Linked DNA regions of Homo sapiens: region 2 is linked to region 1. Evidence: fine-mapped expression QTL. A gene starts in region 1. The other region holds a variant in brackets. All regions are shown on one strand. Distances are between the middles of the regions.

What was found.
Region 2: its variant is fine-mapped to the expression of CHMP2A in monocytes after interferon gamma (Fairfax 2014, PIP 0.95).

Annotation. Positions count from the first base shown.
Region 1 is chr19:58,550,517-58,561,904 of GRCh38, forward strand. It overlaps CHMP2A (charged multivesicular body protein 2A), which reads right to left and starts at 4,589. Exons shown (of 6, transcript NM_014453.4): 1 at 4,472-4,589; 2 at 3,529-3,720; 3 at 1,743-1,922; 4 at 1,539-1,669; 5 at 1,390-1,451; 6 at 1,050-1,260. The coding sequence starts at 3,696. The coding sequence ends at 1,133. TRIM28 (tripartite motif containing 28) reads left to right here. Exons shown (of 17, transcript NM_005762.3): 17 at 1-199. The coding sequence ends at 37. UBE2M (ubiquitin conjugating enzyme E2 M) reads right to left here and starts at 8,095. Exons shown (of 6, transcript NM_003969.4): 1 at 7,757-8,095; 2 at 6,547-6,641; 3 at 6,376-6,414; 4 at 6,171-6,274; 5 at 5,800-5,863; 6 at 5,196-5,713. The coding sequence starts at 7,865. The coding sequence ends at 5,573. It overlaps MZF1-AS1 (MZF1 antisense RNA 1), which reads left to right and starts at 8,670. Exons shown (of 6, transcript NR_027334.2): 1 at 8,670-8,893. RefSeq lists enhancers at 4,588-4,677, 4,748-4,817, 5,212-5,895, 8,450-8,709, 8,855-9,451 and a silencer at 8,020-8,319.
Region 2 is chr19:58,491,555-58,504,249 of GRCh38, forward strand. It overlaps SLC27A5 (solute carrier family 27 member 5), which reads right to left. Exons shown (of 10, transcript NM_012254.3): 4 at 9,732-9,856; 5 at 8,958-9,152; 6 at 8,785-8,875; 7 at 7,938-8,136; 8 at 7,569-7,666; 9 at 7,231-7,361; 10 at 6,779-7,137. The coding sequence ends at 6,961. It overlaps LOC105372485 (a long non-coding RNA gene), which reads left to right and starts at 7,957. Exons shown (of 2, transcript XR_001754024.2): 1 at 7,957-9,174. RefSeq lists enhancers at 8,005-8,064, 8,125-8,334. The variant A/G (reference allele first, on the strand shown) is at 5,338.

The DNA of each region.
Region 1 (11,388 bases):
CCAGGAGCTGTCTGGTGGCCCTGGTGATGGCCCCTGAGGCTGGAGCCCCCATGGCCAGCCCAGCCTGGCTCTGTTCTCTGTCCTGTCACCCCATCCCCACTCCCCTGGTGGCCTGACTCCCACTCCCTGGTGGCCCCATCCCCCAGTTCCTCACGATATGGTTTTTACTTCTGTGGATTTAATAAAAACTTCACCAGTTCCTCAGGCGTTGGCTGGTTGGGGGACTGTGGTCCTGGGGCCTGGTTTATTGACTGTATCTACTAGTCAGCCTTATCAAGCACTGGTGGCACAAGGGAGGGGGGTCTTGTCCCCCACCTATCGAAGCCCATGTGTATGGATGCCTAGGGAGTGGGGAAGACTGCCTCCTTGCCCTTTCTGGGTATGGGGAGGGTCACCCAGGGCAAAGGATGTACACACTAGAGGCTTGTTGGGTACCCTGTGGGATACTGGGTAGGTGTGACCTACATCCCTGTGTAGGCAGGGTTAGCCCCAGGTGTAGCACAGCCACTCTACTGAATGCTTCCTAAATTTTGGTGCTGTAGCTGTTTCTCATCTTCAGAAGGTCCCACAGTGAACTGAGACCTTCCAGATGTGGTTTTTTTCCCTGTCTCCCTTTGCTGAGTCCACTTAACATTATCATTCATCTCTGTGTTATGATTTAGTTACTCTACAGTCGAGCCTGTGTGAATCCCAAGGCCACCCCCTTGCCTCTATTGGTTGGTCTGGACTGTCCTTGAGTGTTGTCATTAAACCATCACTGGACCAAACAGTGTTGGACACTACAGCCTGGCAGATGAGGCCTGGACTCTCAAGATCCTACCAGGGTGTTTGGGCAGTCCAGTATCTTGGGAGAGGTGATGGAGAAGGGCCCACAGCTCACCTGAAGCTCCCAGCTCCTGAAAATCCCAGGTGGACTTTGCTTGTTCACCCCTGCCCCAAACCCCCACCCTTAGCTTAGTACCAAGTGCCTCTTGCCTTAGTGATGCCCATCCTCCCAGGGACCCCAGTCTGGTCCCACATCAGGCCAAAAGTCACATGGGCCTGGAGACTAGTGTCAAATCTCTTTTATTACAGAGGGGTTGTGGTAAAAGATCCTGGGCATCCACTGGTTATCTCGGAGTGGCAGGGGCACTCAGTCCCTCCGCAGGTTCTTAAGCCGTTCCTCCAGGTCTGCATCAGCATCAGCTAGGGCTGAGGCTGCGGCCTCTGCTTTTTTCCCACCAGCAGCCACACTAAGCGAGCCCCCAGTTGAGGGGAGGTCTGCAGAGAAAGTGGGGGTTTGAGCAGGTGGGGTCAGGCAGCGGAGGGGAGTAATGCAGGGAAAGGGAGGGCTTGGAGCTGTGGCTGGGCCTTGGGTGGGAAATGGGGTCCAGGATTTGGAGCACTCACTCGACAGCTCATCTGTTAGGCTAAGTCCCAGCTCATCCAGAACCTGGGACACCACAGCATCACTAGGGAAGAGAGAGAACTCAGTGAGGGCTATGCACTCCGTGAGGGCCAGGCAAACATCTCCACCCTCCCATCCAGTTTCCCCATACCTCTCCTCTTCATCTTCCTCATCACCCATGGCATCATCAATGGCATCATTCATCATCTCCTCCTTCATATCCATGATCTCTGCCTGCCGCTCAAACTCCATCATGATCTTCTGGATCTGGGGCAACTTCAGCTGGAAGTGACAGGAGTGTGAGTGTGATCCCCATGGGTCGTGGGAGTGGGAAGGGGGATTGGGAAAAGCGCACCTGTCTGTTCATGGTGCCCATGGCCTTGGTGACACCCTTCATGGCTTGTGCCATCGAGTTGTTGGACTTGAGTGTCTGGATCTTGAGGGACACAGCCTGGATGTTGGCCCGCATCAATACAAACTTGCGCACATAGCGCCGGGTGCGCACCAAGTCTTTTGCCATGATGCGAACAGCATCCTGCAGAGTAGACAAGGGTATCAAGGACACAGGAATGAGATTATCCTACACTTCTTGACACCCCATTAGTTGGTTGTCCCTCCCCACCAGCCCAATTTGCAATTCCACTTGAAGTTTCCAGAGACTCTGGCTAACCCAATGGTCACTGGTCCCTCCCTCCTTCTGACCTAACCCTCCTCTGCCTCTTGGGCCACCAACTCCCTGGGCTCCTTTGTAAGGTCCTCCTCACTTCTCTTGATCTGTAAATGGTAAAAGAAAGGCCCCAGGCTCACTCCTGAGGGTTCCTTTTCCCTCCATGTTTTCAGTCATTCTTTTGACTTACAACAGCCATTCCTCAATTTTTATTCCCAGCCTAGACAAAGAATCTGTCTCTTCCTTCACCTGATACAAACCCATACCTCGAACTATCCAGAATCACATACAGACCTATCTGAGGCTCAGCTTTTGATTTCCTCTCCAAACATCTTTCTTGCCCATCCCAAGAAATGGTATCTTCTCTGCCTACCTGTTCAGGCCAAAACCCTCTCACCCATCAAAGGCTGTGTTCCTTCTTCATGCTCTCCCTACTGGTTCCGGCTGTCTCTTACCAGCCTCTTGGCCATAGCTTATAGCTTACCCTTACCTTTTTTTTTTTTTTGAGTTGGAGTCTTGCTTTGTTGCCTAGGCTGGAGTGCAGTGGCACAATCTTGGCTCACTGCAAACTGTGCCTCCCGGCCTCAAGCGATTCTTCTGCCTCAGCCTCTCGAATAGCTGGGATAACAAGTATGCACCACCATGCCCGGCTAATTTTTGGTAGAGTGGGGTTTTGCCATGTTGGCCAGGCTGGTCTCGAAATCCTGACCTCAGGTGATCCACCCACCTCAGCCTCCCAAAGTGCTGGGATTACAGGCTTGAGCCATCATGCCGGGCCAGCTTATCCTTATAGTTAACTGGTTTTTTTTTTTTTTTTTGAGACAGAGTCTCGCTCTGTCACCCAGGCTGGAGTGCAGTGGCATGATCTTGGCTCACTGTAACCTCCGCCTCCTGGGTTCAAGAGATTGTCCTGCCTCAGCCCTGCTGAGTAGCTGGGATTACAGGCGTGCGCCACCATGCCTGGCTAGTTTTTTTTATTTTCAGTAGAGACGGGGTTACTCTGTGTTGGTCAGGCTGGTCTCGAAGTCCTGACCTCAGGTGATCCAACCACCTCTGCCTCCCAAAGTGCTGGGATTACAGGTCTCTGAGCTACTGCGCCCGGCCCTGTAATCCCTAACCTTCCAACTTAGCTCCCACTTTGGCCCAGAGTTCTGAATTGTCTGGTCCATGCCCAACTCTTGAAGCTCACCTGTCATCTCCCATTTTTTTGAGGCTCTTTTTTAACATTTGCTGCTCTGTCTGCTTAACACATTCCCTGCCCAGATCTGTAGGCTCACTCTCATCACTCAAGCCTTGGATCTCATACCAGTTCCTTGGAGGCAGCCTTCCAGACCCTCAAACTAGGGAAGCCCTGCTGACCTTTCACTCCACTCGTTTTGCTGAAAGCACCTGTGTTTGGTGTCTGGTCTCTCTTGTTCACTGCTGTTAGAGCCGTGCCTGATTGACAGCAACCTGCCCGACCACCCACACTCACCATCTGGCCTTGCTTGGCCATCTTCTTAATGTCTGCAATGATTTTCTTCTCCTGGGTCTCTAGTTTCTGTCGCTCGCGGTCCAGCTCCCGCATGGCACGGTTCAGGGCCCTCTGGTTCTGCCGCAGTAGCTCCTCTGGCGTCTTCCGGCGCCCGAACAATAGGTCCATGATGGTAGAAGCTCACTGGCAGGCCTGAGACAGATGTGAGTGAGGCCCAGTTGTAGGGCATGGGGCCCAGGAGGGCAAGAAGCAGAACAGGGTCACGGGAGCCTTGCCAAATGGGAAGGGGCTAACGGAGACTGGAGGCAGGAATGAGGAGCCAAAAGGGAGCAGCTGAGAACACTGGGATTGTCCCGGGGACACATAAAGGGGGACAGGTAGACCTGAAAATTATCCAAGTGCTGGCCCGAGCCCCTCCTTCATCGCCATGCCCCAAAAGAAGTTATGGCTTGCAAGTTCAGCTTCCCTCTCCAGAACTATGGGTGAGGCCCTGGAGTCCTTGATACGACTGAGAGCGGGGGATGACGCGGGCCGGTGCACTGGTGTTTTGGAGACTGTGGGCACCGAGGACAGAGCAATTGTGGGGGTTCTGATAGAGGAGGACAGGATGGGCGGAAACGCTAAGTACCAAGAACAGGTGAATGTGGGGCTGTGAAGCTCAGGACAAGGCATTAGGATTTGGGGACCCTGAATGCTGAGGGAGACGGTTGGGGGCGCTGGGGCATCCTGTACACTGAGGACGGGATGATGGAGATTCGGTCGCACTATACACCGAGGACAGTCAGTGGGCCCGGCACCAAAGCAAGGTGGTGTTGGAGACCTCGATGTTGACGACAGGGTCCCAGGGAGAAGCGAGGCACCGGACACCCGGGCGAGTAGAAGGCCTCGTACGCTGCCGCCCGCACGCCCGCCCGGGATCCACGGTCCAGCAGGGGCCACTCACCGGAGCTGGGACGGACACCCGTTTCCGCTTCCGGGTCACGCTTCTCTTTCTGGGATCCCCGACTTGCCCACCAACTAAGGCCCCTCGGTCCTGTCGCCGCCGCCGCCGTTTCCGGATTAAACGACGTGACGTAACATGCCCCGCCCGCACCCGGAAGGTTGGGAAACTCCAGGAGCGCGCGTGCGCCCGTGCCCCGGAACGGGCCAGCGTCCGAGCGCATGCGCAACAGCTCCCGTTTCCTCTGCGCGTCCGAGTGTTTCATGTTTTGAGTCCCGCCCGAGTGACCCAAGCCAGTACCGGGGTGGGCGCTTTCCACCCAACCTCCACTTGAGGACCCAGCTTATTCGTGAGACCTTGACTTCTGCCTGAGGCCTCAGATAGAAGGAGCCTCAGAAGGCTCCTCCTCCTCGGTGGGCCCACCCACACAAGAAAGGGGCAAAGCTAGAGATGGCTTGTTTCTTCCACTTTGCTGGCCTCTTGGCCAGGAAGCCACAGGTCACTGGATCCTGCCTACGCTTCTCATCCTAGAGTAGGCTTCATCCCAACCAACCCCAGGCACAGTCATGGTATCCCCACCAACTTTAGAGCTGCCCCAGGCACTGGGCAGCCTGTTGTAGGGTGCTCCAATGCCACCTGTGACCACACCTTCCACCACCCCAGCTTTGCAGGCCCTAATGGACCTCAGCTGCCCCTCCCACCCCATAGAAGTAAGAAGCAGAGGCCATGCAGTAACATTCCCCTTTAATAGCCTGGTGGGACCTCCAGAGGTGGAGGGGTGGGTTGCCTGGGCCCAGCTACCCAGGCCCGTTGCCCACCCACTCCACAGCCCAGAGTGGGGGCTGAACAAGCACCCAGCAGGGGGGCTAGACAAGCCAATTCATTTCCCATCGCTGAGTGGGTCGGGGGAGGCAGCGCCGACCTTAATCACATGGTGTTAAAAAAAAAAAAATAACTAGGGGCACGTGGCAGGAAGGGGAGGCAAGGCCAAGGCAGGGGATTCCCCCACCGGCCGCCCCCCAAACCCCTACCCATGGCCCCCAATAAATATTTGCAGGGGATGCCAGGGCTTGTGGCCGTGGCGGGGGTGGGTATGCGCCAACCCTATTTCAGGCAGCGCTCAAAGTAGGTGGAGCCGATGTAGCCACCCCGCATGGAGCGCTGCACGTTCTGCTCAAACAGCCGCCGGTTGTTCTGCAGGACCTCTGCGGCCTCCTTGTTCAGTGGGTCCTCGGGGTTGGGCTCCTGTGGCCAGTACAGGTAGGGGGGGTCAACAGGCCAGAGGGACAGAAGGCCAATCTCCCCAGACCCAACCACCTATTCCTACTCACCAAGAAGAGATACTGCAGGCCATAAATTATGGAGTTTATCGTAAGGACTGGCTTCCAGTCCTCTCTGTGGACAGAGAGCATCAGGGTCAGGGCTTGGTGAGTGGGAGACTGCCACAGGCCCCTCTGGTGTTGGGCAGGTCAGATCCAGGGCATAGGAGAGTGAGCATGTGAGAGGCTGGGAGGGAGGGTGTGGAGCAGGACAGGCCAAGGAGAAAACCAAGGTCAGGCCATGAGGAAGATGACTGGGAAATCAAGAAACCACAGACAACAAAGGGGTGGGAAGGGACAGAGTCTGATGTAGTGCCCACAAGACCATGAGGGAGGCCTGGCAGGCAGCGCTGAGGAGGGCATTAGAGGGCCAGTGTCCTCACCTGAGGATGTTGAGGCAGACGTTGCCCTCGAGGTCAATGTTGGGGTGATAGACCATTGTCTCACACTTCACCTTGGGGGGATCATGCGGGTAACCCTGGCCCACCTGGCTCCAGGAAAAGAAAAGAGAGATGGGTAGGTGCCTGGAAGGGCCTCAGCTGCTGCCTCCTCTGTCCAGGGAGCCATCCCTGCCCGCCTGGGACTCACCTTAAAACTGAACACAAACTTCCCACTCTTGTAGAAGCCCTGGGAGGAAAAGGGGGAGAAGAAAATTTTAGGGTTCCATCCTGTGGGGCCCGATGGGCAGAACATGTCTCCCTCCTCTCAGTGGGGACACCCTTGGTTTGCTCCTGGGAATTCAGCCATATGCACCCTCACCTCATCAGGACAGATGACCAGCTTGAAGTTGAGGAGGTCGTCTGGATCTGAGAAGCTGATATCACACGTCTTGGGCAGGTTCAGCTCGTTTATGTCTGGGTTTGGGTAGCAGAGAGTCGGGAACAGAAAGAGGGAGGGGAAGAGAGAGAGAGAGGGAGCCAGCAGGACACTTAGGGCGGGTGTTTGTTAGCAGAGCCCCCATCGTCTCCTCCTGGACCCCCAGGCGCCTCTCCTGGGCTGTGCTCCACACCTCCAGCCCTCTCCCTGCTCCCCAGCTTGGCTCTTGTGGATACACAGCATACCCCAAACATGCATGTTCAGCTGTGTATGCGTGTCCCAACTCCTGGCCCAGGGTGACCCCCAACTTTTCTGTATCCACAGCTCCCAAATGCCCCCACTCCCAAACATCCTCTGACCGCCCTAAACCCCAGGCTCCCCATCCATGACCTCCACTCTACAGTATCTACCTGTTCACCCAAACTCAAAGATCCTGCCCACCCCCACCAACCCTCAGTCCTCACTGTCCTTCCTCTTCTCTGTCTCTCAGACCCAGCTTTCCATGTGACCCCCACACTCTCAAGTCCCCAACCCCCGCCACCCTACCCCACCCCCTCTGACTCTGAGGTTCACAGCACAATAGCCTAAATTTCCCCTCACCCCTGTCTCCAATCCCTGGTACTCATTAACCTTCCCTCCTCCACCTGTCACCCCAAACCCCAAATTGCTGTGACTCAGGCAGGCCCATGAGTCCCTGGTCCTCCAACCTACTTCACCCGTTTGACTCAGAGATTCCCAGAGACCCCAGCATAATAAACTAAATCCTCTTCCACTCATATCCCCAACCCCTGGCCTCTACTATCCCTCTCTTCTCCGCCTGTCACCCCAAACCCAAGTTCCCGTCTAACCCCCAGACTCTCGAGTCGTCAGTTCCTCCACTCCACTGCCTGACTCTGAGATTCCGAGTCCCTAGTAGCAGACACCAGGCCTTCCTAATATCCTAAACCACCACATACCGGGCCCCTATCTCTGACCCCCTCCCCGTGACTGCATGATCCCAACCCTCAAGACTTGACCTCCGACCCCCCCCACGCTCGGGGCCCTTCACCTCTGACCCTCAGCAACCGCATTACCCCTTCCTGACTCCCACATCACCCTGCCTCAGGCCCTGACCTCCGACCTCCGGCTCCAACCCCATCCCCTGACCCCCTACCCTTCTGGATCCGCAGCTGCGCCGCCGACGCCTTCTTGCTGCTGCCCTTGGTGCCGCCCGCCGACTCCTCCTCCTTCTTCTGCTGCTTCAGCGAGAACAGCTTGATCATCCTGCCGCCGCCGCCGCCGCTGCCGCCGCCGCGGGGCCCGGGACCCCGGCCACCCGGCCCCCCGCCGCCGCCCGCGTCGCCTCCGCTCCTCGGACCCGCAGCTGCGGCCTCCTCCGCTGCTGCCGCCACCCGCCCGGCCTGCCGCGCCGCTCCGCTCCTCTCCGCGCCCACCGCGCGGCCCGCCTCGGCTCCCGTAGTCCGGCTCCGGCCTGGCCCAGCGCCTCGGACTCGCTCGGCAGCGCTCGGCCAAATTCGGCTGTTCTCGGGCCCGCCCGGCCCCGCCCCCACTGCCCGGGGCCGCTCCTTCCTTGCCCTCGCCAACTCTGGTCTCAGGCCCCGCTGCAGCTGCGGACTCGGGGCTCCCCCGACCGTGCCGTTTGGCCGCTCAGCTGATCCCTCCGCGAGGGGGTGCGGCTAGGGGTGGGAGGAGGACACGGCAGCTGCGGTGACGGCGGGCGGGTACTGGAGGATCGTCTTCCGCGGCAGCAGCGGCTTTAGCGCGGAGGTCGGCAACGGCCTCGGGCGCCCCGCCGCTTCGGATATTTCCGCCGCCTGCCCGCTTTGGCTCTTCCCGCCCGGCCTGCGTTGTGCGCCTGCGCAGCCGCCGCAAACCCGCGTTGCTCAGCGATGGAGTTTGGGGTTCGGCCTCCTTCGGCTGGACTCGGGCATTTCCGTTCATGGAGATGACGCTTCGGCGGCCTTGCAGGTCACTTCCGGCGACTTTCGCGGGGCCGGGCAGGAAGCGGAGTTAGTCGCCATCTTTGAGTGGGGCAGACGTGGGCCGCTTTTGCTCGCGGTCACTTCATCTTAAGTTGTATATATGTGCAGAGCGCGGCGCGGGTGGTCACCTCCGCTGCTGCCGCCACCCGCCCGGCCTGCCTTTGACCCTATGGGTCACAGACAAGGCAGGGTGATCGCGGCAAGACCCTGAGTGAGACTAGATGCGTTACCCAGAGGGTGCGAGGTCGAGTACCTTCCCTGTCCCATCGCAAACCCAAAGATCCCCGTTCCTGGAGATTCTGATTGAGGTAAACTAACAAAACATGTATTGTGCCAGAGAGTGGTAAGCACTGTGGAGGGTTACAGTGGTGTAGGGGAAGACCTGTCGGGGTGGACACTTGGGGAACGCGACGTGGGGGCGGAATCGGGCCGCTATTGGCGTGGGCCTCAAGTTCCAGCGGACACGCACTGCAGCCTCTGCGCTTCCCCCACTATCTGGAAAAGGGGATGGAGGCGGGGGTCAGCTTCCCATCCAATCACAGCTCAGCGTGCCTCGGAGGGCGGGAGGAAACGGAACTCTGCCGGTCAGCGACTTCCGGCCGTCACCACGGAAACTGCCAGCCCCGTGAGCGCATGGTGTGGCACTTGCCTGCGGAGGGGCCCAGGCGCCACTCCTCTGATTCTGCAGATGCTCCCCCAGGAGTGGCTTCTGGCCAAGGCCAAGCCCCTTCTTTGAAACTGCCTTTCAGCCTGTGTTACCTGCACCCAAGTCACCCACTGGAGGGTTGGGGGAGAGGGGCTGTGTGAAGGACCTGGACAATGGGATGGAAGGGGAAGATGGCTAGGGCAAAACAGGCAATGGCACTGGGTCCTGGAGACGCTGCCCTGAAGCCTGCAGTATGCTGAACTTATGCTCTCAGCATCTGTCCACTTTCACCTAAGCTGCGTTTCCACTGGTTTGCTGCTGAATCTACTCCTGACTGAAACCTTCCAATGTGCATGGGGCCAGGGTGGGAGAAGCCTTCAGCTCTAGCGATGGGAATGATCACCACAGGGCAGGGAAACTGGCCCAGGGCCTGCAGCCTTTGCTTCTCAGACTGGCTGGGGTTCCATCTGCAGGGTCCTACACCCTCATCACCTGCTGCTTGTGAACACGAGAACAGGAAAGTCTTGAAAAATCTGAATTTCCAGGTGAAATCTTCTAGTTTTAAAACTAGGAAATGGTTTCCTAGGTGTAAAGGAGTTTTACAAAGACATCCTGAGGCAGAATCTGGATCACCAGGTGTCAGTTTGCTCCTGCTGGATCGCATAATCTTGGTTGGCTAGGGAGATTCTGGCCTGTCTGGGTCCTTTCCTGGGGTTTGGCTTGGCCCATGGCCCAGGGGACAGCCGTGACAGGGTGTGGAGGGGAGCATGCAGGTTGCAGGCATCAAGTTTAGGCACAGTACCACCCACAAACCTGGGGGTTGGCAGATCCAAGTGGGATCCTTGGCTCCCAGCTGTAAGAAGTGCTGTGACCCCACTGCTTCCCTTTGTTCCTCTAGTACTAAGGGTGAGATGCTGAATGTCCCCATGAGTACAACTCTTCAGCGGGTACTCCTACTGATAGGTAGATAAAGGTAGAAAGCTTTGGCCGCTCAGGACCACTTTAGGGAGTAGGGTGCTGTTAGGGTAAGGGTAGCTGTACAGCTGAGCTGGGGTGGGAGAGGTAGTATCATGGGAATGAATCATTAACGCTGACTTGGAGCAAGGAGGACTGGTGCTCAGGAGGCTGGTAACCTCCCTGAGGATTGAGTGTTCTCCCAGCCCTTGGAGGCCCTGGTCTCAGTGTCAAGGGAAAATCCCATGGGATTTCATCACCAGACAAGGCTGGGCTCCAGACCTACCCACCTAGGCATCACTGTGCAGGGCAGAGACTACAAACACCTCTCTTCACTTGCAGATCTGTTAAGGGCAGGCTGGAACAGGGGTTGGAAAGGGAGAAGAGACTAGGCCAGCACCACCTCTTCCCCTTGGCAACAGCAGGTCCTTCCAGGAGCAACAGTTTTTACATACCTCCCAGAACCAGGCTCACTGGGCCCCTTGGAGACACCCACACCAGTGCCCCCTCAGGAGTCTCCTAGGCCTATGGGGCACCCTCTTGAGAACAGAGACCTCCAGACCAGCTGAGCAGTACCCCCTCAGGCCCACAGGGCTTCCCTGCCAGCTAAGAGACCCCAGGACTGGCTCAGCAGTGCCCTCTTCTCAGGGGCCTGAGTTCCAGCTCCATGGGAAACTCATTGGAGCTTCTAAGTTGCAATGCTTCCCTTTGTTCCTCTAGTCCTAAGGGTCTAGCTGCTTCCTGCAGGAACTTTCCCATTTCTAAGACAGATTGACTTAACCTTCTCACTCTCCCATCAATCACCTAACACCTAGTTAGCTGTGCTCTGTCTCTTGATGGGACTCAATCAGATCAGGCATGGCACCATGCTATGCACATATGTACTCTTGGTGGATGCTCACAGAGAACATTTCTTCCTCTCTGGGTTTGAGAAACCGAGGTCCATTGCCCAGGGAGAGCTGAAGCTGGACTGCCCAGGGCAGTTCTGCCCCACCTGCTGCTGGTCCATTCCCTCTGTAAACTAGAAGCTGGGTATAGCGGCCATCCCACACGCGGGGTAGGTGATGCTAGGAGCCACCTCTCTCAGGGTGAAGAGGGGTGTTGTGGAGGTGAACCCTCACAGGAACCACGTGGTTACAGAGGGAGCACACCAGCCCAGCACTCGGGGGGCTGGAGGGTGGGGAGTGAAGGACGCACAGGTAG
Region 2 (12,695 bases), 58 kb before region 1:
ACTTTCACACAGGGCTTGTGTTTTCCGTGGTCTCGGCAACACCAACAGTGTCTGAACATGACTGCACAGACATTGGTGCCCGCCGCTGCTTGTGAGCTCCAAGACCATCTCTCCTTCTGTGGGTGCCCCACTTATCTCACTTTTTGACCCCTCCCCAGGTCTCTGGAACCCTCTCTTCAGTCTTGACTTCCTGCTGGCCTGTCTGGACCAGGTCTGTCAGTCCTACTCCCCAGCACCAGATGGGCCCTAAGAATCCCCCTCCTGCCACACCTGCTATTTCCTCATATCCAGCCTCTCAGGCTACGATCACCACGCCACCCTTCCAGAAGGTTCCTTCCAACCGCCCTTCCGAAAAGGCCCTCTCCATGGCCCTCTTGTCAATGACTCACTCCCAGCATGGACAGCAGAGACGTGACCCACACCTCTAACCCATGAGGCTCTGCCCAGCCCTCCCTGGACATGTCAGAAAACAGAGAGACCCTAGTCACTGTGGGTCCAGAGGCAGGACCAGCAGCCACGTCCATGCCTTTTCAGAGCACCCTCACCAGGGTAAGGCAAGTTCTAGCAAGGCAGAGAGGGATCTGTGTGAGGAGGTACCTCTCATTACCACCACTGTTAATCATCATTGACTTATTCATTCATAGAGAAAAAGTCATCTTGAACCATCAAACCCGAGAGCATAATGTCGGATACGGAAAGTCGGTGGGAGAAGTCATCTGTCATTAGGGGTGGGAGCGGGGAACTTAACACGGGCATCCAGGAAAAGGCAGGATGAGAAGAAACCGTGGACTTGGTAAAGTCTGTAAGAAACGTCACCATCTGAGCCATCGCTACAGCATCTGCCTGTATTTCTCACATGCTTACATGAAAGGCATTATTTATTCACTTGGACAACAAAGGCTGCTTTTCGTGAGAGTCACTGGTCCTCCCATGAGGGCATCCACCGATACTTCAAGAATCCTTCCTGGGGCCGGGCACAGTGGCTCACGCCTGTAATCCCAGCACTCTGGGAGGCTAAGGGGGGGGCGGATCACGAGGTCAAGAGATCGAGACCATCCTGGGTAACACGGTGAAACCTCGTCTGTACTAAAAAATACAAAAAAAAAAAAATTAGCCAGGCGTGGTGGCGGGCGCCTGTAGTCCCAGCTACTCAGGAGGCTGAGGCAGGAGAATGGCGTGAACCTGGGAGGCGGAGCTTGCAGTGAGCCGAGATTGCGCCACTGCACTCCAGCCTGGGAGACAGAGCTAGACTCCATCTCAAAAAAAAAAAAAAAAAAAAAAAAAAAGGAAGAAAGAAAGAAAGAAACAATCCTTCCTAGGACAGTGAATCACTCCTATAATCCCAGCACTTTGGGAAGCTGAAGCAAGACGATCGCTTAAGCCCAGGAGTTCGAGACCAGCCTGGGTAACACAGTAAGATCCCAACTCTACAAAAGAAAATATGTTTTTTTTAATTAGCAAGGCATGATGGTGCATGCCTGCAGCCCCAGCTACTGGGGGGGATCACTTGAGCCTAGGAGGTCAAGGGTGCAGTGAGCGATGATGGTGCCACTGCACTCCAGCCTGGGTGACAGAGCGAGACCCTATCTCAAAAAAGAAAAAAAAAAACAAAAAAACCAGTCCCCACACTAGCAGCCACCCATAAGAATATAAAGAAAGCATGGTGCCCTCCACCACCTTTTACTTCTATACCTAACCAGCAATTTTGGGGGGAAAAGACATAAATGGGAAAGAGTTCTGACACATGACTAGCTAAGAAGGTTTTGAAATAAAAGTAAAGAGTAGGAATTCCGCCAGGTGCAGTGGCTCACACCTGTAATCCCAGCACTTTGGGAGGCCGAGGCAGGTGGATCACCTGAGGTCAGGGGTTCGAGACCAGCCCGGCCAACATGGTGAAACTCCATCTCTACTAAAAATACAAAAATTAGCCAGGAGTGGCGGCATACACCTATAATCCCAGCTACTCAGGAGGCTGAGGTGGGGGAATCGCTTCAACTTGGGAGGCAGAGGTTGCGGTGAACTGAGATCAAGCCACTGCACTCCAGCTTGGACAACAGAGAGAGACTCCTTCTCAAAAAAAAAAAAAAAAAAAAAAAAAGAGAGAAAGAAAAAGAAAAAAAAAAAAAAAAAAAAAATATATATATATATATATATATATATATATATATATATTACAAGCCTATGCTAATTACAGCAGCTTGGGACAGGAGAAACAGAAAGACTTATAGAATGAAATTAAGAATACGCTGGGTGTGGTGGCTCACGCCTGTCATCCCAGCACGTTGGGAGGCCAAGGCGGGCAGATCACCTGAGGTCAGGAGTTCGAGACCAGCCTGGCCAACATAGTGAAACCCCATCTCTACCAAAAAAATGCAAAAATTAGCTGAGCCTGGTGGCACATGCCTGTAATCCCACCTACTCAGGAGGCTGAGACAGGAGCATCACTTGAACCTGGGAGGCAGAGGTTGCAGTGAGCCCAGATTGTGCAACTGTACTCCAGCCTGGGTGACAGAGTGAGACTACGTCTCAAAAAAAAAAAAAAAAAAGGGTGCAGTGGCTCACACCTGTAACCCCAGCACTTTGGGAGGCCGACGTGGGTGGATCACGAGGTCAAGAGTTCAAGACCAGCCTGGTCAAGATGGTGAAACCCCGTCTCTACTAAAAATACAAAAATTAGTCAGGTGTGGTAGTGTGTGCCTGTAATCCCAGCTACTCAGGAGGCTGAGGCAGGAGAATCACTTGGTTCCGGGAGGCGGAGTTTGCAGTGAGCCAAGATAGTGCCACTGCACTCCAGCCTAGGCAACAAGAGTGAGACTCCATCTCAAAAAAAAAAAAAAAAAAAAAGAAGAATAAAATGTGTGTCACCAGCCCCCAGCACATCCCCTCCACAATAGTAGAGTGTAGGGTAGGGCTCTGCCTGCTCATTTCGCCCCAGGAGGCCAACCCTCCCTGATAGTCCAGGATATTTTTGGAAAAAAAAAAAAAAGGTGCTTTTCCGTCTCCCCAAGATCCTCAAGTTCAACTAGACATTTCCTATATAAATGTTTTGTTCTGCCTGTTCATTTTGGTGGGTGCCCTTTTCTCCCTTCCCCACCACCCGTGCTCCTCCCAGTCTGCCCCTGGCCTCCAGCCCTGAGGATCAGTTGAGGTAGGGTCCCTGGTATTCCGTACCCTCCTCCCTTTGTTTCTGTTGGTTGTCACTCCTGCTGAATGTATTGCTTTTTAATACTGTACTGCAGGTTTTTTTTAAATAAAATTGTTTGGAAAGTAAAAGAGAAAAGGAATAACGTGTGTGATATATTGAATAAAAAACACTTCATAGATCTGTAGTCTAGTGGGGGAATAAGAAAAAGTTTTAAAATTTTTATTTATTTTAGAGACAGGGTCCTGCCTCTGTTGCCCAGGCTGGATGGAGTGCAGCAGCACAATGATAGCTCACTGTTACCTCAAACTCCTGGGCTTAAGCCATCCTCCTGCCTCAGCCTGCCCAGTAGCTAGGACTAAAGGTGCACAATACCACTCCTGGCTAATTTTTTTACTTTTAATTTTTTTTCTAGAGACGTGGTCTCACTATGTTGCCCAGGCTGATCTTGACCTCCTAGGGTGAAGTGGTCCTCCGACCCTGGCCTCCCAAAGTGCTAGGATTACAAGCATGAGCCACTGCACCCAGCCAAAAATTATATTATTATTTAAATTTATTTATTTATTTATTTTTATTTTATTTTTTGAGACGGAGTCTCGCTCTGTCGCCAGGCTGGAGTGTAGTGGTGCAATCTCAGCTCACTGCAACCTCTGCCTCCCCAGCTCAAGAGATTCTCCTGCCTCACCCTCCCGAGTAGCTGGGACTACAGGCATCCGCCACCACACCCAGCTAATTTTTTGTATTTTTAGTAGAGACGGGGTTTCACCATGTTGGCCAGGCTGGTCTCGATCTCTTGACCTCATGATCCACCCACCTTGGCCTCCCAAAGTGCTGGGATTTCAGGCCTGAGCCACCGCGCCCGCCTATTTATTTTTTCTGAGACGGAGTCTTGCCCTGTCACCCAGGCTGCAGTGCAATGGCGCCATCTCAGCTCACTGCAACTTTTACCTTCTGAGTTCAAGTGATTCTCCTGCCTCAGCCTCCTGAGTAGCTGGGATTACAGGCATGCACCACCACACCTGGCTAATTTTTTGTATTTTTAGTAGAGACGGGGTTTCACTATGTTGGCCAGGCTGGTCTCAAACTCCTGACCTCATGATCCACTCACCTCGGCTTCCCAAAGTGCTGGGATTACAGGCGTCAGCCACTGCACCCAGCCTCAAAAATTATTATTATTATTTTGAGACAGACTCTCAGCTCTGTTGCCTAAAGTGGAGTGCAGTGGTGCAATCTTGGCTCACTACAACCTCCACCTCCCAAGTTCAAGCGATTCTCCTGCTTCAGCCTCCTGAGTAGCTGGGATTACAGGTGCATACCACCACACCCAGCTAATCAAATATTATTTTTTAATCCTTGCAAATGTAATAGCAAAAACTATGAATGCCCCAAGCTAGCTAGGGCTTAGGGAGGCACGGATTTGTATAAAGTGCTGGTGAACTTGTAAAGCTGAGGATCCACAGTGAGATATTTCTACAACATCCACACCCTCTGATCCAACACCTGCAACAATGGGCTTGGCAAGTAACTCATGGGGAAAGCACCTCTCTTGGCTGGGGCTTCCTCAACTATGGTGGGAGCAACACAACACAACTCATCCCATGAGATGTGGTGAAGATATCAGCTCTAGGCCAGGCACAGTGGCTCACACCTGTAATCCCAGCACTCTGGGAGGCCGAGGTGGGAGGATCATGAGGTCAGGAGATCTAGACCATCCTGGCTAACACGGTGAAACCCCCTCTCTACTAAAAATACAAAAAGAAAGCCGGGCGTGGTGGCGGGCACCTGTAGTCCCAGCTACTCAGGAGGCTGAGGCAGGAGAGTGGCATGAACCCGGGAGGCGGAGCTTGCAGTGAGCTGAGATTGCACCATTGCACCACAGCCTCGGTGATAGAGCGAGACTCTGTCTCAAAAAAAAAAAAAGTATCAGCTCTAGCCTGGCCCCAGGTGAGTCCACAAGGGTTATTCTTCTTTTTTTCCCACTATACTAACAAGGACGTGAGGGTTCTTTTTTTTTTTTTTTTTTTTTTTTGAGACGGAGTCTCACTCTGTCACCCAGGCTGGAGGAGTATGAAGGAACTGGACAACCTACTGTGTGCGTGGGAGGATCCAAGTCCAGTTGTATGAAAGGGCCAGGGCTCTTCAGGGAACATGTGGGGCTCCACTGGCCACACAGGGCACAGAAATAGCAAGTCACA[A/G]CAACTATCACTTCGCAGAAGAGAATTACAGTGCACGGCCACCACCAATGACAAACAGATGCTCATAGTGGGACCCCAACTGAAAAGGATACTGTCTCAGCTCCAGGCTGCAGGGCTGACAGGAAGAGCCTCGAATGCTACCAGGAACTCTGTGAAGCCCAGCTGCCTCACAGCCCACGTGGGGTGCTGCCTGCACTGCTCCCTTCGAAGGCTAGTTCTGTCTCAAAGTGGCCCATAGCCTGATGAGGAGGCTGAGGCACGGGAGAGCACAGTATTGTGCCAAACCCCTACTGACTCCAATGGGGACGGCACCAGGTTCAAGAGGCCGAAGAAGAGACTAAGAGCCAGCAAACAAGATGTAGGGTTTTACTGGGGGCTTACATACCGGGGAGAGTCCAGGGGCGGTGGGCTGGGCAGGAGAACCACTTGCAAAAAGCATGCAGTTTATATGGCATTTTCACTTAACATCCTCCCCCTGGCAACCTTCATTTAACTGAAAGCAAAAGGCCAGGATCCCTTATACCACCAGCATTCCATGGGACAGGGCTAAGGACCCAGATGTTCCTCAAAAATAAGGAATGAATCTCTGAGATTCCTTAGCTGGGAACTCTGAACCACACTCAGGTGCGTCTGCCACACAGGGCCATTCTCAGGTGTGCTTAAGCATTGCTGTGGGGTGTGTTTACTATGCACACGAGAAGGGATGGGCAGGGTCGCAGTCTGCAGCACTGCCCACGGACAGCCCTTTGCATATGGCGTTTACTGCTGTGGGGTTCCTTTTCTCACCATCATCACCCCAGCTGTGCTCCCAAAGTTAACCCATGGACCACCGGCCTGGCACCACCACAACTGTTCCAGTGTCTGTAGCCTCACCTTCAGTTCCTACTGGGCCGAGAAGCCTTGGAGGCAGAGGCTCAGCACCCACACACCCCCACCTACATCTCCACTAGGCTTCGGGTAGCAGGTCCAACTCCTGAGACTGTGCAGACTCCCATTTTCCAGAGGCCTCTGCTCCCACTGCTCCCCACCTACAAAGCTTGCCCCAGGGCCTCTACACGTGCCGTTCACAGTGCCAGGGACACTCCTCCCCCAGTTACCTCCTGCTTGCCCTTCTAGCCTCAGTCCAGCAACCTCCAGGCTTTGTCAGATTGTGTATCCACAGCACTTCACAGGGGAGTTATCCACATCCACTGGCCCAGCCACCGCCTCAGTGGCCCACCAAAGACCCACAGATGAGAATCAGAGTTCTCATCTCTCTACCTCAGAGCAGCTGCGAGGCTGGCCAGCTCCTCCCACACCCTTGGCGTTACACAGACAGGGTCATCCCACAGGGATGGCTGAGGTTCTTTGCTGGGAGACAGGGAAGACCCTAAAATAAGGTCTTCAGGGCACTAGCCCCTGCACTCCTCCATTGCTCCTTCATCCACGCAGACATACAGACTTCTGTGAACACATCTGAGTTTATTCTGCCACTGCTACAGGGCCCACTGTCATTTCCAGCCCACTGAGGTTGAGGGTATGGCCAGGCTGGGATTCACACAGGCCCAGGATGAAAGGGACACCGAGTGTGTTGGGGTGGGGGTGGCTGGCTTTGATCCCTACCCCAGTGGGTTGGCCAGGTGATCAGAGCCTCCAGGTTCCCTCACACACAGCCTGGTACATTTCTGCCGTCAGGGGCCGGAAGGACTGGGCCCGGTTGTCCAGTACAAACAGAGGGTCAACCACGATCCCCACATTGAAGCCCTCACGCACCAACCGGGTCTTCATCAGTTTGAACGTGCTGGTGACCTCCATGGCGTCCTGCAGGGCAGTGACCATGGTCCAATCACTGTGACATCCACCCGCCCCCTGGCTATGATCTTCCACCCACCCACCAGGCCACCCTGGGCTCACCTGGATGCGGATGAAATGGGGGGTAGCGTAGGCAGGGAGCCAAGCGCGAACGTGCTGGTACAACTTCTCCCCGTCGAAAGTCTGGCCGGGGGCTAGCTGCACAGCAGCCATGCCCACCTTACCCTCACAACCTAGAGAGCAGTCTGGTCACTCTCGGCTGACCCATCTCGAGGGCCCATAGCTGACCCTCCAGCCTCGCCCAGCTCTGCTCACTGGCTGTGAGAGCCAGCAAGTCTCTAAACCTCTCTGGGCCCTAGCACTTCCCCACCTGTAAAATCAGAATAACGACCCCTCCACCCACAAAGCTGTTGGAAGTTTAAAATGAGAACCCTCCGCACCTGGCACGCACACGCCATACACGTTAACCTGTTGCAAGAAGTCCACCTGCGACAACACGCCCTCCACCTCGTGCGTGGACACGTTCTCGCCCTTCCATCTGCAAGGAGGGAGCCGGCGCTTGTGACCACGCCCCCGGGAAGGAGAGGCCCCGCCTCTTGCCCCCGCCCCGCCCCTTTTGGGGATCAGGAGGCCCAGTCAGCCCCGCCCCCTCGAAAATCGAGAAGCCCCGCCTTCGCGTGAGAAGTCCTGACTCCAAGTTCCGCCCTCTTACGACAGGAAAGTCCCGCCTCTTCAGCCTGACTCCCTCTAGGATCTGAAAGCGTCCGTGGCCCCGCGCCAGCCCCGCCCCGAGAAACCCTGCCTCGGACCGGAAGGTGTCCCCGAGGCGGTCGCGGAAGTAGAGGAAGCCTTCGCGGTCCATGGCCAGTACGTCCCCGGTGTTGTAGTAAACGTCGCCCGATTGCCGCACGTTGCGCACCAGCTTCCGTTCCGACAGCTCTCGGGGGCCGCGGTAGCCCACGAAGGGTTGCTGGCTTACCACCTTGGTCAGCAGCAGCCCCGGCTCCCCTGGGGTAGGAGCAGGAACAAGAACCCCTGGAGCCCACCAGCCAAGCCCCCTGCTGGAGGTTTTCAACAACGGTGGACTCTTCATCACCCAGCACCCTGCCAAGGACAGACCCAAAGACACAGACAGGGAGATCCAGAGATGAGAGAGACATTCAGAGACCTTGAGAGACTGCGACAAGCGACACAGAAAATGAGAGAGAAGTATAGAGAAGGCGGTATGGGGAGCCCATGAGAAACAGGAAAAGGATAACAAGGGATGGAAGACGGACAGACAAATGGCAGTGAGAATAGATATGACCAGGACCTTGCAAGGCCCTGGGAGAAGACACTAACAGAAGGTACAGGACAAGGGACCAATGGCTGGAATGCCGTCTTCCACAGAAAGCTCAAGAGAACAAATCAGATGGACACCCAGAGACCCAGTAAATCAGAGCAAGAGATCAAGGCAGGGGAGCTGGACAGAGCCGAGAAGCTGAGGCGGAGGCCCCAGATGGTGGTAAGGCAGGCCACTGGCTCAGGGTCCAGATGAAGGCTGCAGACCCCTCTAGTGAGCACCAACGTCAAGCTTTTGAGCAGCTCGTTCCAGCCAAGCAGAAGACTGAGGGTCGCCACCCCTGCCACCCAGGAAAGGCTCCTCAACCCCCATACCTAGCCCTACAGGGATGCAGAAGCCCTGATTGTCCCTCACAGGCTCCGCCGCCTCCATGTCGAACTGCACCAGCTCAAAGGGGGACAGCATCTGGGGTGGAGGGTGGAGTGTTGACATAGGTCCTGTGGGCTCAGCCTCAGGGCAGCTGCACACCAGGTACCCGCACACTCACTCGGAGGAGGCAGCTCATCTTGCCCAGGGCCCCGCAGCGCCCCACATAGTTGACTAAGCCCATGTTGCCTTCTGTGGAGCCGTAGACTTCCCAGATCCGAATAGGACCGAAGCGCTGCTGGAAGGTCTCCCACACATCAGCCCGTAGTCCATTGCCCATTGCCAGGCGGACTGTATGTGTCCGGTCCTCTGGTTGCTACAGGAATGTCCCCAGAAGGGTGAGGAGGAGGTGCTCTTGGGGCATGCCTTGGAACCTTTACCTAGAGGGGGTGTTATCCTGGGTCCTTACCTTGGGAGTTACCTGGAAGGTGATGGGGGACCTCTACCTAAGGGATCTACCTGGGTTACTTACATGAGAGTAGTTACTGGAGTCTTAAATAGAGGGTTACCTGCAGGGGCGACCTCAGAGCTTTGCCTGGGGGACGTTACCAGAGGTGACTGGAGGCCTCATCTGGGGTCTCACCTAAGAGTAGTTACCTAGAACTTTAATTTAATGGAAATTTAATTTTAATTAATTAATTTTTAATGGAAATTCTCATGATAGGGGTAGGGGCTATTATCCCTGTTTTCCAAATGAGGACACTGAGGCTCAAGGTAGCACAGCTATCAAAGAAACCATTATTGGAAGCCTTGTCTGAAACTCATTATCTGGGGTTCTTGCATGAGGTGTATTATCTGAGGGACTTGAGTTCAGTACCTGAATCTTTACCTGAGACCTTTACCTGGGATTTCATACTTGGGTGTTCACCATGGAGCCCTAATCTTAGAGCCTCACCTGGGGAATGTTACACAAGTACCGCAGGAGCTCGCCCACATACAGGATCACTGTCACGCCATGCTGCCGACAGTCATCCCAGAAGCAGGAAGTAGAGAACTTGGGGGCCAGAACACAGGTGGCTCCTGGGAGATGACAGGAGAGGGGGTTTCAGGTCATGCTTCCAAATTGTTGTAAGAAGCTGCTTTTAGCACCTGTGCTCACCCACCCCCACACCCTGAAATACAGGACAATACTGAGTTCATCTTTGTGTCCTTGGCCCAGCCAGGACTGCTCTCACTAGAAGAGCATAGGCAGGCCTGGGTTCAAATCCTGTCTCCAGGATGCCGGGAAAGCTCCGTGCCTGTTATAAAGTGAGCAATGCTAAATAAGGGCTGTAAATATTAAATTTTTTATTTTTATTTTTGAGACGGAGTCTCGCTCTGTTGCCCAGGCTGGAGTGCAGTGGTGCAATCTCCGCTCACTGCAACCTCTCCCTCCCGGGTTCAAGCGATTCTCCTGCCTCAGCTTTCTGAGTTGCTGGGATTACAAGCACCCGCCACCACAGCTGGCTAATTTTTGTACTTTTTTAAGTACAGACGGGGTTTCACCATGTTGGCCAGGCTGGTCTTGAACTCCTGACCTTTCAGGTGATCCACCCGCCTCGGCCTCCAAAGTGCTGTGATTACAGGCATGAGCCTCTGTGCCCAGCCACATTTTTAATTTTTATTTTGGCTTGTCACTGACTCGAAGCTCAAATCACTCTTGATTACGATAAATGAATGCCCAGCTAAGCAGATGGGTGGGCAGGTGGATGGATATGGTGGATGGATGGAAAGATGAATGGATGGACAGTTAGAGTAGTGAGTGAGTAGATGGGTGGGTGGACAGAGTAGTGAGTGAGTAGATGGATGGGTGAACAGTTAGAGTAGTGAGTGAGTAGATGGATGGGTGGACAGTTAGAGTAGTGAGTGAGTAGATGGATGGGTGACAGAGTAGTGAGTGAGTAGATGGATGGGTGAACAGTTAGAGTAGTGAGTGAGAAGATGGATGGGTGAACAGTTAGAGTAGTGAGTGAGTGGATGGATGGGTGGACAGTTAGAGTAGTGAGTGAGTAGATGGATGGGTGGACAGAGTAGTGAGTGAGAAGATGGATGTGTGGACAGTTAGAGTAGTGAGTGAGAAGATGGATGGGTGAACAGAGTAGTGAGTGAGTAGATGGATGGGTGAACAGTTACAGTAGTGAGTGAGAAGATGGATGGGTGAACAGTTAGAGTAGTGAGTGAGTGGATGGATGGGTGGACAGTTAGAGTAGTGAGTGAGTAGATGGATGGGTGGACAGAGTAGTGAGTGAGAAGATGGATGTGTGGACAGAGTAGTGAGTGAGAAGATGGATGGGTGAACAGTTAGAGTAGTGAGTGAGTAGATGGATGGGTGGACAGTTAGAGTAGTGAGTGAGTAGATGGATGGGTGGACAGTTAGAGTAGTGAGTGAGTAGATGGATGGGTGGACAGTTAGAGTAGTGAGTGAGTAGATGGATGGCTGGACAGTTAGAGTAGTGAGTGAGTAGATGGATGGGTGGACAGTTAGAGTAGTGAGTGAGTAGATGGATGGCTGGACAGTGACATGCAGAGGCAGGGGGGTAGAAAGATGGATAGGTGGCTGGGTGAGGATCGTCACGCCTGTAATCCCAGGACTTAGGGAGGCCGAGGTGGGCGGATCACGAGGTCAGGAGATCAAGACCATCCTGGCTAACACGGTGAAACCCGTCTCTACTGAAAATACAAAAAATTAGCTGGGCGTGGTAGCGGGCGCCTGTAGTCCCAGCTACTCGGGAGGCTGAGGCAGGAGAATGGCGTGAACCTGGGAGGCGGAGCTTGCAGTGAGCCGAGATAGCGCCACTGCACTCCAGCCTGGGCGACAGAGTGAGACTCTGTCTTAAAAAAAAAAAAAAAGAAAAAGAGAAAGATGGATAGGTGTAAGGATGGATAGATGGGTGGGTGGATGAATGAATGAATGAGTGAGGAAGTAGGTGAGTAGGTAGATGGGTGGGTTGGTGAATGTTTGTATGGTTGTATTGACGTATGGACACATGGATTAATAAGATATAGGGGGCTGGGCGTGGTGGCTCACACCTGTTATCCCAACACTTTGGGAGGCTGAGGGGGGTGGATCACCTGAAAGATCAGGAGTTTGAGACCAGCCTAGCCAACATGGTGAAACCCTATCTCTACCAAAAAATGCAAAAATTAGCCAGGCGTGGTGGCGCACACCTGTAGTCCCAGCTACTCGGGAGGCTGAGGTGGAAGAATCGCTTGAACCCAGGAGGGGGAGGCTGTAGTGAGCCGAGCTTACACCACTGCACTCCAGCCTGGGTGACAGAGTGAGACCCTGTCTCAAAAGAAAAAGAAAAAAACTGAATCTAACAACACCTCTAGTTAAAGTTTCCAATTTAACAAGAAATGCAGATGAAAGGGGAACAGAGACCTACAAGCAAATACAATGGGGAGACTGTTTAATTGTTAAAAACAAACAAACAAACAAACAAACAAAAAAACAGCCAATTGGCTGGGCACAGTAGCTCACACCTGTAATCTCAGCACTTTGGGAGGCCAACGTGTTCAGATCACTTGAGGCCAGAAGTTCAAGACCAGACTGGCCAACAGGGCGAAACCCTGTCTTTACTAAAAATACAAAAAAATTAGCTGGGCATGGTGGTCCACACCTGTAATCACAACTGCTCAGGAGGATGAGGCATGAGAATCGTTTGAACCCAGGAGGCAGAGGTTGTAGTGAGCCAACATCACACAACTGTACTCCAGCCTGGGTGACAAAGCAAGACTCTGTCTCTAAAAACAAAACCAAACCAAAACAGCCCATTGGAGAAATCTGAACATAGACTGGACATCATATGATATTAAGGGGTTACATCATATGATATTAAGGACATCATATGATATTAATGTTGTTACGTGTAATAATCAC